Regions from separate parts of the Homo sapiens genome. Here region 2 is linked to region 1. A link means that fine-mapping ties the variant in region 1 to the expression of a gene that starts in the linked region. Tissue or cell type: whole blood. Region 1 holds a variant in brackets; the other region holds the start of a gene. All regions are shown on one strand. Distances are from middle to middle.

Evidence for each region. PIP is the estimated chance that this variant, and not a neighbour inherited with it, causes the effect.
Region 2: CASP2 starts here. The variant in region 1 is fine-mapped to the expression of CASP2 in whole blood (TOPMed, PIP above 0.99).

The regions. Positions count from the first base shown.
Region 1 is chr7:143,249,574-143,252,333 of GRCh38, forward strand. All of the region lies in intron 2 of LOC105375546 (a long non-coding RNA gene), which reads left to right. Among named protein-coding and RNA genes, the nearest start is that of GSTK1, 12 kb to the right of the region's middle. The variant A/G (reference allele first, on the strand shown) is at 1,493.
Region 2 is chr7:143,287,066-143,289,565 of GRCh38, forward strand. CASP2 (caspase 2) reads left to right here and starts at 1,286. Exons shown (of 11, transcript NM_032982.4): 1 at 1,286-1,464. The coding sequence starts at 1,391. It overlaps TMEM139 (transmembrane protein 139), which reads left to right. Exons shown (of 3, transcript NM_001282876.2): 3 at 1-983. RefSeq lists a silencer at 913-1,662.

The sequences.
Region 1 (2,760 bases):
AAACTTCAGAAAAAAATCCTCTTCAAGAAGCTCAGGGAACTACAAGAAAACATGAATAGAAAATTAAATAAAATTTAAAATACAATGCACAAACAAAACAAAAAGTTTGGCAAAGAAATAAAAACAATAAAAATAGAAATTTTAGAGAAAAAGAATATAATAAATGAGCTGAAAAATTCAATAAAACTCTTCAATGGCAGACTCAATCAAGCAGAAGAAGGAATCAGTGAGGTTGAAGATGGTACATTTGAAATTACTCAGGGAAGAAAGAAAAGAGAATAAAATGAAGACAGAAAGCCTATGGGAATTATAGGATATCATCAAGATAACTAAATTTACATAATAAAAGTGGCACTGGGAGGATCGCTTGAGGCAAGGAGTTCAAAACCAGCCTGGGCAACACAGCAAGATCTCCATCTCTACAAAAATAAAATTAGCCAGGCATGGTGGCACACATCTGTAGTCCCAGCTATTCCAGAAGCTGAGCTTGAGCCAAGGTGTTCGAGGTTATGGTGAGCTACGATCATGTCACTGCACTCCAGCCTGGATAACAGAGAGAGATCTTGCCTCAAATAAATAAATAAGTAAAAATAGAAGTGGCAGAAAGTGGAGAAAGAGAGAAAGTGCCAGAAAGCACTTTTTAAAAAATGGTTGAAAACTTCCCAAATCTAGGGAAAGATGTCAATACCCAGGTACAGGGAGCTCAGAGGTCTCCAACAAAATTCAACTCAAAGAGGTGTTCAACAAGACATATCATAATCAAACTGTCAAAATTAAAGACAGAAAGAACTCTGAAAGCAGAAAGAGATAAGGAAATATCACATCTTAAGGAATCTCAATGTGACTAGCAGTGGATGTCTCAGCAAAAACCCTGCAGATAAGGACAGAGTGGGATAATATACTCAAAGTGCTGAAGGAAAACAGTGCCAAACAAGAATATATCCAGAAGAAGTCCCTCTGAAATAAGGAAGAATAAAAACTTCACCAGACAAACAAAATTTAAGGGTGTTCATCATTACTAGTCCTGCCTAGTAATCATGCAGGAATTGCTAAAAAAGAGTTCTTTAAGCTGAAATAAAAGGTATTTAATTAATAACAAAGCATATGAAAATATAAAACTCAATGGGCATATTCAGGATAATCTACTACTCTAATGGTGGTGTATAAAGCAATTTTATCTCTACTATGAGGGTTAAAAGATAAAAGTATTAAAAACAACTATAGCTGCAATAAATCGTTAAGGGATACAAATTACAGAAAGACGTAAAATTTTATATCAATATTATAAGAGGTGGTTGGGGTAAAAGTGTAGAATTTTTGTATGTGAATAGAGTTAAGTTGTTATCTGTTTAAAATAGCCTATTATAAGTATAAGATGTTTCATGTAAGCCTCATGGTAACTACAAAGCAAAAACAAAAACCTATAGTAGTTGCACAAAACATAAAAAGAAATAATTTGAAGCATATCACTACAGGAAACCACCAAACCACA[A/G]AAAAAAATAGCAAGGCATGAAAAAAGAAAAATGACAAAAGAAAACAAGTTACAACATAGCAGTAGGAAGTCCACACCTATTAAATAATTACCTTAAATAAAAATGAATTAAATTATCCAATCAAAAGAAAGTAACTGAGTGGATTTAAAAAAAAATGTAGCCTACAAGAGGCTCACATTATTAGTAAAAACACACAAAGACTGAAAGCAAAGGGATGAAAAAAGATATTCCATGCAAATGGAAGCCAAAAGAGAGCAGTAGTAGCTATACTGATAGCAGACCTAATAGACTAAGTCAAAAACTGTAAAAAAAAAAAAAAAAAAAAAAAGACAAAGAAGGTCATTATACAATAATAGGGGGTTCAATTCATGAAGAGGACAAAACAAGTGTAAATACATATGCTCCCAACATTAGAACATCTAAATATAAAAAGCAACTATTAAATGATCTGAATGCAGGCTGGGTGTGGTGGCTCACGTCTATAATTCCAACACTTTGGGAGGCTGAGGCAGGAGGATTCCTTGAGCCCAGGAGTTTGAAACTAGCCTGGACAACATAGTGAGACCTCATCTCTACAAAACATAAACAAAATTAGCCAGGCATGGCAGTGCACATCTGTAGGCCCAGCTACTCAGGAGGTGGGAAGATCATTTGAGCCCAGAAGGTCGAGGCTGCAGTGAGCCAAGATCACACCATTGCACTCCAGCCTGGGTGACAAAACAAGACGCTATCTCAAATAAATAAATAAATAATCTGAAGGGAAAGATAGACTGCAATATAATAATAGTAGGAAACTTCAACACTCCATTTTGAACAATGGACAGATCATCTAGACAGAAAATCAGTAAGATAACATTGGCTTTGAATTACAAGTTAGGCTAAATGGAACTAATGCACATATACAAAACATTTCATCCAACAGCAACAAAATATACATTCTTCTCAAGTGCACACAGAACATTATCTAAGATGGCTCTAAATGTTAGGCCACTGATATGGTTTGGGTCTGTGTCCCTGCCCAAATCTCATGTCAAATTGTAATAATCCCCAGTGTCGGAGGTGGGGTCTGGTGGGAGGTGATTGGATCACGGTGGTGGATTTCCCCCTGGAGCTGTTCTTGTGGTAGTGAGTTATCATGAGATCTGGTTGTTTAGAAGTGTTTAGTACCTCCCCCTTCTCTCTTCCTCCTGCTCTAGCCACATAAGATGTGCCTGCTTCCCCTTCACCTTCTGCCATGATTTTAAGTTTCCTGCCATGCTTCCTATAC
Region 2 (2,500 bases), 37 kb after region 1:
TAGATTGAGGATGAGGTAGGGAGGTGATCCAGAGAAGGCGGAGAAGGAAGAAGTAACCTCTGAGTGGCGGCTATTGCTTCTGTTCCAGGTGCTGTTCGAGCTGTTAGAACCCTTAGGCTTGACAGCTTTGTGAGTTATTATTGAAAAATGAGGATTCCAAGAGTCAGAGGAGTTTGATAATGTGCACGAGGGCACACTGCTAGTAAATAACATTAAAATAACTGGAATGAACTCCTGATCCCAAAGCCTATTGTGTTTTCAACACAAGGTAATAGGAAGCCAAGCAACTTGCATGTCTCCCAATCCCTGTCTAGGGACAGCTGCTGGTGCAGGATGGAAGACTTCCTATAAACAGAATGGGCGACCAATTGTGTCTACAGAGGGGGTGGGCTGAGCATGGGCACGCATGTCCCCAGCCTCCTGGACGAGCAAAGTCAGTCAAAGCGCTGGTGATCCCTGCTCCGCGTGCGTAGCAGTGTCTGTGCCTCTCCTGCCCAGGGGCTAGAGAGCAGTCTCCAGTGCAGGGTCCCCATCCTATCTGAAAACAGTGGAGTCAGTGACCCCAGGTGGAGGGACTTCCAGTTTTAACAATGGGTTGGTATGAAGGCCAGAAGGAGTGAAACATGTGAACTTTCTGGCGAGGAGACTCCCTCTTGAATCATCCATATGTAGCCCCGGGGTCACTTGCGAAGAGTCTCTAACAGCTTCTGCCTCACTCCTAAGCTCTGACCGCTAGGCTTTCACCCCAGCCGCCGGTCCTGATTCCTGAGATCCCAATATTGAGCACCAGGTTTCCTGGAATTGTGTGCTGCGGCTGTGATGTAGGTTTCGGTCGCTGGAAGCTGCTAAACCATAGCTGACGCCCCCTCCTAAGCCAGCCTTCCTTCCCCGCGCGGGCATCTGTCCAGGGCCTTGTCGCGCTCTCAGTCTCCTTCGCAGCCTGGCCCCAACCGTTCAACTTCAATAAAGCAAAACTCCAGCCACGCCCGTCTCCGTGAAGTTATCGCCATAGGCCGGCCAGGGGGCGCGAGAGGCACCGGGGTGATTTCCGCGGGAATCGATAACCAATCGGATTCCCAGGCCGAACGGAGCACACCCGCCCGCCCTCGCTCTTTCCCCGCCCTTTGCCCCGCCCCGCTCCTTCCCCTCCTTTTGTCTGTCCGCCGAGCACCCCACTTCACCCCATTGGACCGCGCGGCCGCCGCTAGAGCTCTGCGCCTGCGCACGCACCGGGCCGGGGACTGGGTGGCCTGGTGTGTGGGCGCGGCAGGGCGCAGGCGCAGGCGCAGTGTGCGTCCGCGTCTGAGGGGAGGGATGTGGGGGAAGCGACGGCCCCCGGTTTGTTTGGGCTGTGGGCGGTGCGCAGCGGAGAGCCCGGGAAAAGCGGGAAATGGCGGCGCCGAGCGCGGGGTCTTGGTCCACCTTCCAGCACAAGGAGCTGATGGCCGCTGACAGGGGACGCAGGTAAGTAGGGAACGGTCTTAGGGCTCCTTAGGGGAGCCCAGGGAAGGGGAGCGTGGCCCCCAGGCGTGCGGCCCTGCAGCCCCCTCCCCTCGGAGCCCCGGAAAGCAGCCGTGTCCGCGCTTCCTGCCAAGGGTGGGACGCCCGCCCGAGCCGCTCCGAGCCTGACTCCGCGCAAGGGCCCGCGGGCGGACCTCTTGGCCTTGTCTCTCGTGGGAAAAGACTGCCCCAGCCTCCCTTTGTTCAACCCACGAGGGTTCTAAAGGGGAGGTCTTTGCAGTCCTGCCCGCTCTTGGGTTCTCTTGAAGATTCTTCATCCTTTCCTCTGGCTCCCTTATGAGGGAAACTATAAAAAGACCATACTCTGTCTCCTTAAAAATCGACGAGACCTTCTGCAGACCTCGGTGCTCTGCCTGATGTGCATTTGATTTGTATCGATTGTATCATGATCTGCATGGCTTTGCATAGAATGACCAGATTTTCAAAGAAGTCAATACAGGGTTTGGAAATTGAGTACTTTTGGCAGAACAAGGGGGTTCCTGTGGCTCCGAGTGTCCATGCCTCTGCCCCGGTCATTCCATTTCATGGCAGTCATCACCCAGGAGAACATTGTAATGCCTCCTGCTCGAGACTGAAGATTAAGGTCTTCGCAAAGGGAACCTGCAGAAGGACACAGAATTAAGACGTAGGAACTCCGTGGTGCCCTTCGCCCCTCCTCCCCTTCCAGTTGTGTCCTGAAATTCTAAATGATTGGAAACTTTTATAATGTTCACGTTTAAGACTCTCATACTACAGAGTAGAGGAAGGAGCGGGTGTGCAGAGGGGGTGATGCTTCAGATTAAAACTAAAGAGTTGATTGAAAATTCAAGTCTGGAACTCGAGAGAGTTAAGAACTATAAGTCAGTAAGTTGCAAGTATGGGTGAGATTGTCTAGGGAAAGGCTCTTTGAAGGGGCGTCCCTAATGGAATATCAATATTAAGGGCAGGCCAAAGGCCCTCTAAAGAAAACAGGAACTGGGTAGGCAGAGAGAAGACTCCC